Linked DNA regions of Homo sapiens: region 1 is linked to region 2. The links come from fine-mapping of genetic effects on gene expression. A gene starts in region 2. The other region holds a variant in brackets. All regions are shown on one strand. Distances are between the middles of the regions. Region 1 holds the start of LOC101928389 (a long non-coding RNA gene). Region 2 holds the start of NHS (NHS actin remodeling regulator).

The links. PIP is the estimated chance that this variant, and not a neighbour inherited with it, causes the effect.
Region 1: its variant is the best candidate, but not a certain one, in a credible set for the expression of NHS in whole blood (TOPMed, PIP 0.55).

Annotation. Positions count from the first base shown.
Region 1 is chrX:17,523,338-17,528,708 of GRCh38, forward strand. The region is part of intron 1 of NHS (NHS actin remodeling regulator); the gene reads left to right. LOC101928389 (a long non-coding RNA gene) reads left to right here and starts at 5,098. Exons shown (of 2, transcript NR_135631.1): 1 at 5,098-5,371. The variant T/C (reference allele first, on the strand shown) is at 2,974.
Region 2 is chrX:17,372,597-17,377,967 of GRCh38, forward strand. NHS (NHS actin remodeling regulator) reads left to right here and starts at 2,604. Exons shown (of 9, transcript NM_001291867.2): 1 at 2,604-3,726. The coding sequence starts at 3,162.

The DNA.
Region 1 (5,371 bases), 150 kb after region 2:
AATTAGGAAACTCAGCAGCAGGTGCCACTTGAGAGGCAGAGACCCAGTCTTCCTGCCAGGGATGTCTTTCCAGGGCCCACCCCCCAGGCCTTGATCTCTGCTGCTGCCAAAAATGGCAGGGCTGACACAGCAGGATTGCTTATCTCTACTGAGCAGAGCAGATGAGGAAACCGAGGCATAGAGCCGCCATGAGACTCATCCCAAGGCTCCTGACAGTCCAGAGGCAGAGCCAGTAGTGGGGGCAGTCTCCCCAGATGAGCTGACCTCAATGGATCTCTACACAGAAGAGGGAAAACAGATAGGGCGGCATCCAGTAAATACCCCAAAAGCTCATCTTGGAACCTGTGAGTCCCTGCTTGTGTTTCTTGGCTTCCCAGGTCCCTCACACCTCAATAAAAGCCCAGTCTTGTCTTTCTCTCCCAACAGTGCCGGCAAAAGAAATAAGACCTCCAACCACCACAGTGGAAAACCTGCAGGAAGAAAATGTTCATAAAGAGTTGAACCATGGCCCGAAGTGGTTTTGGTTTTCTTTCAAGGCCTGCAGCATCCTGGAGTGCCAGGGGCCTGTGGTCACAAAAGCTTCATCTCAAAAGAAGCTAAGAGGGGGTCCATTCTGGGGAATACTCTGGACAGTGCTATGAAGGGCAGCTGGGAAGAGAGCTGGCTCTCTGCTGCATATTGACTACTCGGGGGTACAATTTTGTCTTGCCCTTACCCTTATCCACCCATAGCAAGCTCCGCATTTGGTGATGTTTGCTTGTTTCACTTTTTATTTTGAAATAATTAAAACTTACAGGACAGGTGCAAGAATAGTGTAAATAACTCTTGTATACCTTTATCTAGATTCACTAATTGTTCATATTTTGTTGCATTTATCCCTTCTCTCCCCCACACTAATTCATGTTCATATATATGTGAATTTTTTTGCTGAACCATTTAGGAGTAGGCAGCTGTCATCAAACTCCCTTTACCCCTTGCATTTCCCAAGAATGAGAATATTCTCTTGTATATGTACAGCTATCAAATTTAGAAAATATAATATTTATTTCATACTTTTATGTAACCTGTGTCCCAATAATGCCCTTTATCACAATTTTCTTAAGGTTCACAATCTAGTCCTGGATCCCACATTGCATTTAGTTGTCCTGTCTCTTTTGTCCCCGTTAATCAAGAACAGTTCATAACTCTTCCTTTGTCTTCAGTGGCCTTGACATTTTTGAAGAATACCAGCCAGTTGTTTTATAGAATGTTCCTTAATTTTGGTTTCTCTGATGTTTCTTCACATTTACATTTGGATTTAGGCATTTTTCAGTTGGAATGCTATATAGGCATGTAAGTGATTTGTTCTCTGGGGACCATATCAGGAGGCACAGATGTCCATTTGGCCCTTGTTGGTGAGGTCACATTTGATTAGTTAAGCTGGTGTCTGTGTAGCTGTTCTTTTTCCTTTTGTAATGAACAAATATAATTTGTTGGAAGATATTTTGACATTATGTAAATATCCCATTCCTCATCAAACTCTCTCCACCTAGCTTTAGCATTCATTGAGGATTCTTGCCTGGATAATGATTTACTCTAATGGTTTCATCCATCATCCCTTCTATATTTGTTAGTCCAAAATAGTCTTTGATTGGGTGGGAAGGCATACTAAGCCTGCCGATCTTAGTAGCTGAGCTCACAGGGAGGAAGGGCCTTGATTTCCTCCTTGGACTCTGACTGACAGCTCTTTTGAAGCAGTCCTGTTCTGTTGGGTGTATGTTTTGACACATGTAGTAACTCATTTTGGAAATACTTATTTTTTACTAGATAACTTTCAAATAAGTTTTTAAATACTTTACAAAAAAATGGTAGGATGTTGGTTGCATATGTTATCATTTATTTTTGTGGCATCTGCTGGAAAATTGCACCTGGTTCTTTTACACAGTGTTGATCAACAGAAACCTGATCATGATGATAGCAATAATAATATCTTCTCACCATCTGAACCCTGCTCCAGAGAAAGGGATGAAATTAGAGAGATTGTTTGAATTCTGAGAAGGATGGTTGGACTAAAAAGGAAAACCAGCTATTGGAAGCAGATGAATTAAGTAAAACATGAATTTCCAGGAATGTTTCAAAATACTTGTGTGGGAGTTCTTTTTGGAATGTTAAAGCAGTGAATGGCATTGCTTGGAATTTTGTTTTTTTCTTTATTGATTTTGGTTCAAAACGAATCCTTAATCAGTTTCTAGCCAGTTCATTTTTGTCTATTTTTTGCAGCAATTTACTGTTTTGTTTTTGTTTTCTTTTTTCTTTCTTTTCTTTTTTTTTTTTTTTTTTTTTACTACAGTGGAAGGGGTTTTTATGGGAGAAACCTCTGATTATTGTTTTAGTGGGCCTAGAATATTAAGTTCTTGGTTTTGATTTTTGTCTTTTTAAATAGCTCTTTATAGCCCATAGTAAGAACAAAGGACTAATGGGGGATGTTTGGGAGGTTTCTCAGCTCTTATATGTTGTTATAACACTGGTTGTTACAGTTGCCATTAAGGTTAATGTTTTCAGAACAGCACCAAAAGCTATAAGCGGACATGAAGGAAAAGCAGCTGTTTTTCATAAAACTTACAGATGAACCAATGCTAGTTACTCCTGTGATGAGTGATCTAGAGCAGCCTTTCCCTAGTGTGTGTGTTCCTTGGAATGTGCATGTGTGTATACACACAGAAGAGAGAAAAGGGAGAGTTAAGTTCATGGTCAAAGAAGTTTCAAAAACATTGCATATTGTAACTCCATATTGGAGAATCACAAGGTTAAAAGAGTATAGTTAATGCTTTGAATGTTACACCTTTGCTAGAAAACAAACTACCCCAAAATTTAGTGGCGCTGAACAACAAACATATATCTTAGTCTGTGGTTGAGCTCAGTGGTTGTTCCAGTCTGGGCTAGGCCAGGCCAGGTGGTTGTAGCTGGGCTAGCGCATGTGTCCACAATCAGTGA[T/C]AGGTCAGCTGAGGCCTAGCTGATCTAGATTGGCCTCATCTGGGATGTTCCCCCTGGCAGTGTCCTCTTATCGTCTAGCAGGCCAGCCTGGGCTTGTTCATATGGTGATCACGGAATTCTGAGCATGCGAGCAGAAGTGCGCAAGGCCTTTCGAGATCCAGGCTTGGAACTCAGACAGTGCCACTTCTGAATTGCATTGGCCAAAGCAAGTCACAGAACCAAACCCAGATTCAAGGGTTTGAGAAATAGACTCCACCTCTCGATGGGAGGGCTTACAAGGTCTCATTGCAAATGGATGGGGAGATACCGAAAGGGGAATGATTGCAGCCATTTTGACAATCTAGCAGAGAGATCAACTAATACGTGACTGGCTATTATTTCTATGCGCATTTCTGGGTTTGGGAGAATTTGTAGGGGAGGAGGAAAAGAGATACAGATCATTTATAATTGCAGAAAGTAAAAATAAGACTTCAGTTGAGATTTAATGAGCTAATCTATTTCAAGTGCTTTGAACTCGCATGTAGTAAGAGCTCTATAAATGTTGCTGTTATTATTATCATGAATGCATATGTCACTTGAGGTCCTCAACCTCACTTAGAAGTGAAGCAGGAAGATTCATTTGACAACAAAATGAACAAAACTTCAGATACTTGTGCAAAACATATAATCAAGTGAAGGAATTTAAATAAAATACCCCCAGCAAAAATAGTCTGGAGCACAGAACAGACATTTTCCTCTGGGGGTTGAAGGTGGGAAGATGTGTCCAGTTTTGCCTTCTGTGACCAGTTCACCCTGTTGGGCTTGTTTCCAAGGTAAGGTCAGAGCTTGCCGGGTTCTTGCTAAACTGGAGTCTGTAATAAAGAGGGTACCCAGGTGTGAAGAGTTTTATGTTCTCAGGACTTGTTCTTTGTTTATTTAGTTAGCCTTTATTAAGTGCATTGGAGCCTTGGAGGGCTCTGCAGTGGCTTTTGTTGCATGATAAAGGTGGCACATAGCTTTTCTTTGGCTGACTTGGGCTCCCAAGTGAAAAAGGCAGAGAGGGCCCTGCCAGCTTCCCTGGCTCTGCCCCTTCAGGGCATTTCAGGGAGCAGTCCAGTGACTGACGCCAAATGCCCTTGAGCACTGTGCCAGCCCTCTTGACTGGAAGCTGGGGAAGGAAACTTTCTCAGGCCCTCTCTCTCTTTGCTTCTATTTCCCCTTTCATTTTGTGGTCTGAGCAGCCCCCGCCCCTCCTTGCGTAAACCCCTCTGCAGTTAGCATCAACAAATCCCAAGTTGTTTGTATGTGTGTCTAAAAGAAAAATTCTCTGAGGATTAGAAGCAGACACAATAGAGGGAGTGCTCCCTTTTGCTTTAATCACTTCAGGCTCCTACGTGTTGACAGGAAGTTTTGTTAGTATCCAAGTTTAAGGAAAGGAGCATTCAGGGGTGGCATTTTTTTTCCTGCGTTGAATTCTTAAAGTAAGTTTGATAAGATATCTGGTAAACTACAAGCCGCTCCCTTTTTAAATAGGCTTCACTGCCCCCTTGGCCTGCCTGTAAAAGCGCTGCTCCCTTCAAAGGGACCCATAATCACGCCGAGTCTGTGGGTTGCACGACTATACCCACTGTCTTATCTGCAAGTTGAGTTTGATCTTCCTGGCTGAAACCTGTGAGATGTTCCTTTATGTCTCCACATTCTTTTCTTCCCTTTCTGCTCCCAACCCCACCCCCAAATTAATTGGTGTCTGGTGACTTTTTCTACCGCTTCCTCTTGTTTTCTGTGGCTTTTGTCTAGGGCAGTGGGGGAGGGTGATTCTTCCCTCACCCCCAGGGGACATGTGGCAATGTCTGGAGACATTTTTGGTTGCCACAACTGGAGAAAAGGGGCATCTGGTGAGGAGAAGTGAAGGATGCTGCTAAACCTCCTACAATGCACAGTGCAGCCCCCACAGCAGAGAATGATCCAGCCTCAAATGTCACCAGTGCCACCACAAGGAGCCCCTGATCTAGCAGGTTGCTTTCTGGTAGGGTGCTCCTGCTTCTGATATGGCTCCTCCCTCTCTCTCTTCTTCCTCAAGAGGACTGTTCTTGTGTCTAGTATTGGTTACATCACCCCTGCCCTTAAATAACTAAACTCACAGAAGGAGAAAATTTTTCCTTAAGGATGCTACTGACTCTGGAATCCTTGAGTTACATGTGAATAACTGGGTCGTGCATGTCAGCATTAAGAAATAATCACAGAACTCCTGATTCTGGTTTGCTCTGGGTGGCAGCTGTGCTGGGTTTACCAATGGAGGAACTTCATGGCTGCTCATCTTTGACTCTTTTTCTGAGGAACCAAATCTCTCTGGGAGTGCTGGCTAACTCACCCCTTCTTCAAACACGCTGTGTGGCTTCAGGATATGGCTGCTGGCTTT
Region 2 (5,371 bases):
AAACAAGAAAGACACAGCTCCCACGTATGCTGAAAACTCATCAGCTTAAGACTATTCACATGTCCTGTCAGGATTACATGTGTTGCTACCCTTTTTAAAATTTCAGTATTTTAGTTCTAGAAAGCAGGAATAAAACCCAAAAATGTGTGTAGGGGTGTGTGTGTGGGGGTAATTCACATGGGAGGGACTTGAGTTGGGAAAAGGGTAGGATGGGGCCAGCAGGCTGTCTTGAAGCTGCCTTCCCAAAGCTAGCAGTTTTTTATTTAGATGGTGTCACTAATGTAAAACAATCGTTACATTTTCTAAAGATACCTTTATTCATATCTTACAGAGGACTGGGAAAACATCAACCAACCATATCAATGAATATGATCATTTGTATTAGGTTTGGTTTTGGTGACTTTGAAGGAGGGTGTCTTTCTCCCCAAATAAAACAAAAACAAAAACAAAAACAAAAACAAAAACAAAAACGTAATGTGCTCTTGGAAAGGTCACTGGGGACCACCACCAAAGGAAGGGGAGGGGACAGCGAGAATGAAGGAGATCAAAAGCCAAAATTAAAGGTTTTTAAAATTTTAACCAAAGGGCTTTATTAGCACACAAGTCAGAGTCAAGGAGATTACAAAGAGGGCACTCCTTTTTGCATCCTTGAACTGTGCTTTGAATCATTTTGAAATCTCGGCTTGAATCTGAGCTGATCACTTGGGGGCAGACACTAAGGTAGCTGGCCTGTTTTTTAGCTTAATTACCCCCTTGAACCCTTTCTCTCCTGGGCCTTTGCCCTTCCTTTCTGATCACTTATTTTGGGAGCCCTGGAAGGAACTTGCCAATAATCTGAAACTCCCTTTAGGAGTGAGAGTCCCACACCACTTATTCATTGCCCCTGTCAATGCTCAGATGGGCCCGCTCCACTGGCACCCTTGCTATTAATAGGACAGTGCTAGGTAAGGGAGAGTGAGAGGCAGGGCAGCCTGTTGCCACAAGGCTTGCTAACCAGATGCCTTTAATATCCCTCATTGTTCTCCATGCTTCCATGTGTTTAGGGAGAAGTGTCTGGCTTGCCTACCCAGCAGAACTCATGTTCAGAATTTTGAACGTATTAAAAAGTCAAGCTCAATTTAAAAACAGCTAGCTCAACGCTTTTCAGATTTGTGAGATAAAAAACAAACCTTAAAAGACCTTGTTCCAAAATATTCTTTTCTTTCATTTTTTATTTGGAAACAAAACCAAATTTAAAGTTGCAAGAAATGTACAATGAACCCTGATATGCCCTTAACCTAGACTATTTTGAACATTTTGCCATATTTTGTTTTTTTCTCCCTTCATACATACACATCTTTATTATCATCATTCTTCTTCTTGTTGTTACTGAAACATTTATGTGTACTTTGCAGACATCATGGCCCTTTACCCCCAAAGCCTCAGCCTGGATCTTTTATGAACAAGGATATGTCCTTGCCGAAAATTTTGGTTTTTTTTTGTTTTTTTTTTTTTGTTTTGTAGAATAAGACAAGGGTCTGTTGAAGCCTTTAAAACCAAAGCGTGGGCCAGTCCAAAGTGCTGACTGTTGGAGCCTCCTCCCTCTCCCGCCTTTAGAGGGAGGAGAGGAGACACCACCGCAGGTCTGGAGGACTTTATTGTTGCCATAAAACATATTTTTTCCATGTTCTCTTTAGAAACACGAAAAGAGGCTGCATTCCCAAGATCTGGCTTGTGGCTTTAAAATAAAAAATATTTTTACAGTATACTTTTTGGAGGCATGAAAGCACGTGTTTTATTAACATTTCCCAAACTCTTTTTACTGACGGCATACAGCCTGCAGCCTGCTGCAATCGAAAATGCATGCCTTTTTAGAAATTATACCTTTCAGTTAACTGAAGGGGAAAACTTTCCCTTCTTCTGTAAATCATCATCTCTCTGATGGAGAACTTTAAAAATCCTGTGTATGATCAGCACAGTAGGGTGACGAGGAGGTAATGCCGTTTATCTCACCCAACGTGCAATGAGTTTCGTAAGCAGTTTTCTGGGGATTTTGCTCATTGGTGGTTTGGGTCTCATTCACGATATTCTATAGAGCCCGTGCCCAAAACAGGGGGCCACGTGATGCCTGGGAAGGGGTATAAACAGCACTCTGGCTGCTCTGGCCACATGGAGATGCGCCTACGCCCTTTGCCCTCCCCAGTTGTCTCCTTGCGTTCATAGAGCCCGGGGATCTCCAAGGAGCAGCCCAGTTTTCCCTGTAAGAACCCAAAGGTCTTGTACAGAGCTGGAATTCGGCGAAAAACTTGCTCCAACACGCCAAATCTGCCGCATCCTCAATACCCCACCCTCTTCCCTCTGCGCTTACTGCCCACACCCCTACTCCCAACTTGAGGACTCCCCGCCCCCACCACGCTGACAGTCTCAATTCCAACCCCTTGGATGTGAGGAAGTGTCTTTGCGCCTGAACGCGCCCAGCACGGCGAGGCCACCAGTGACTCCCAGCGGCCGCACAGGGCGCTGCGCCCCCCTCGCCCCGGCCTCCCCCGCCCTGCGTCCGCCCCGTCACCCCCGCGCGGCCTCCTGCGCCCGGGCTGGAGGCAGATTCCTCTCTCCGGGTTTTCAGAGCGCCTTTCCGAAACCTCCTCCCCGCCCAGCCAGGGAGAGAGATCCCGGGCGCAATCGCTCCCCGGAGCGGCCGAGGGGCGCGCGGGGAGAGGCCTGCGCCGGGGTACTTTCAAACTGAGGCGCGCGCACACACTCACACCCACCCACCCACTCACCCACACACACACAGACACACGCACGCCCATTTATATAGGCGGCGGCGACGGCAGTGGCCGGGGTGGCGACGGCGAGCACAGAAACGATGGAGTTGAGCCAGTCGACCCTGGTTGGAAGCAAGTGAGAAGAGACCAGGCGCACCCCTAAATTTCTGTGCGGAGCGCTTGTCATCCTCCCCAGGGAACGGTGCACCCAAAGGAGGACTGGCTGGACTGATTTGCTAGGGAGAGGGCGGGGAAGAGGAGGCAAGGTGAGCAGAGAAGCCCCCTGCGTATCCGGACTGCCAGATCGCGCTTTTGCCGGACTCCTGCCCCCTCCCTGCTCAGGTGGGCGCGCCCGGTCTCCAGCTCACAGGGGCGCTTGGAGGAGACCAGAAAGTCGCCGCCTGGCTGCGCGGGATGCCTTTCGCCAAGCGGATCGTGGAGCCGCAATGGCTGTGCAGGCAGCGGCGCCCTGCGCCCGGCCCAGCAGTGGACGCGAGCGGAGGCAGCGCTGAGCCGCCGCCGCCCTTGCAGCCGCCGGGCCGGAGGGACCTGGACGAGGTCGAGGCGCCAGGGCCAGAGGAGCCAGCCCGCGCCGTCCCTGCACCTTCAGGGCTGCCACCGCCGCCGCCGCCACTGCCCGCGCCGGCCGACCAGACTCAGCCGCCGCACGGAGAGGCGTCCGTGGCTGGCGAGGAGAGCACGGCGGGGATCCCGGAGGCGGCGCCCGCAGCCGGCGAGGCGTCCTCGGCGGCGGCGGCGGCGGCCGTGCTGCTCATGCTGGACCTATGCGCGGTCAGCAACGCCGCTCTGGCCCGTGTCCTCCGGCAGCTCTCGGACGTGGCCCGGCACGCTTGCAGCCTCTTCCAGGAGCTCGAGAGCGACATCCAGCTCACCCACCGCCGCGTCTGGGCGCTGCAGGGCAAGCTCGGCGGCGTGCAGCGCGTCCTCAGCACGCTTGACCCTAAGCAGGAGGCAGTGCGTGAGTACCCGCGCCGTCCGCCCGCCAGGCTATGGGTTTCTGCGCCGCACCCTCGCGCCCTCCCCAGCAGCGGCAATCCCAGCCCCGCGGCGCCGCTCCGGTTGCAGCTTGCACCTTACTACTCTCGCCTTCCCACCCTTCCCATCCCCTGGGACCCACCCCAATCCTCCTGGGGCTGAGTGGCTGGGCTGGACCCCGATTCAGTGATGCAGACGTGGACGGTGGAAAGTTAAAAGGGCGACCTCTGAAGTCGCAGGCAGCGTGGGCTGAGAAGGAGCAGAAAGGGAGCGTTTATGGGGAGCACAGGAGGCAGAGAGGGTCTGTCCTTCACCACCGGGGCTCGCCTTTCACGTCCTTCACGGGGCGTAGGGAGGAGGGTTGCAACTCCTGTGGTTTCCAGAAGCCCAGCCCTGAGCCCTGTAGCCCACACCATGCATGTTCAGGGTTGGGGGTTCCAGGAGTAGTGAGTGTTCTTTTGAGACTGCTGCAGCACCGCGGCTGTTTCGTCACTCGCTGTGACCTCAGGTGCTGCCCCGAGCTCCGAACTTGTGCCTTGCCCTCGTGTGCGACGTAGCGTGGCGCTGCTCGCCTCCTAGACTGAACTTCGTAGTGCTTCTGCCGAAAACCCTTGTGGCCCGGAGGGGCCGCGGGGAGGGTCAGGGAGAGATGAGGGTGGGAGTGTCAGGGGCCCCGGGGAGATGGAGGAGACCCCTGGGCATCTTTTCTGCTCTGAACAGCCCAGGGTTCCTACTAAATGGCTCTGTGCCATCTGCCCGCAGAGGATCCCACAGACTATCTTCCTCCTCCCCGGTGCACTGTCGCCCAAATTTACTGGCACGTGGACTTAGGTATGAACTAGTCTGCTAGGCGGGCTGCAGGGAAACGACGAGGAAGGAAGTCTGGGAGACCCCTGGGCGTCTTTGCTGTCCGTTGACTTCGCTTTTACGACACCCAAGGGCTCCCAATAAATAGTCATTCTATGTCATCTCCCTTCCAAGGGCGGTCCCCTTGGCTCCGGATCGTCCAAATCTGGCGACGGCAGAATCATTTAGGAACGACCCAGGAGGTAGACAGGGGCGCTGGGTTGGCGCGACGGTCCTTTGGCGCCTAGTCAGGCTGCGACGCTCGCGGCGAAGGTGATGTCAGCGGCTCTGACTTACGTAAGAAGCTTCCTAGGTTGCTGCCGCAGCTGCGCCGGTGCGCAGTGGCCTAGGAGCGCGCGGGGCGGAGGCGCTTTGGAGGCATCCTTCCCTGGGGATTTCCGGGCACCTCTGCCCCACAGCCCAGCTCAGCCTCCCAGCGGTCCCTGCCCGCCCGCGTGTTCTCTCCCTCTTCCCCTCCTCCTCCGAAAAACCCTTTGAACCCCGTCCCGGGAATTCACTGCTTTTCTGCAATAACAATAGTAATAAGCGTAATGAATAAATGATGTGCTCGATCGGTTTTCGCAGCTATAAAAGACCCGGAGTTGGGTTAATGACTGGTTGTTTAAAAGGGCAATTCCGGGGATGAGTTCTGGAAAGAATTAGGACTGCCGTAGGCCAAGTCGTATTTTACTTTTGGGACTTGAAATGAGCGCTTTAATCCTGCCTCCTTTTTACCCCAAACCACACAGCAGGGACAGGCCCTTCACTTTCAACAGCGCAGG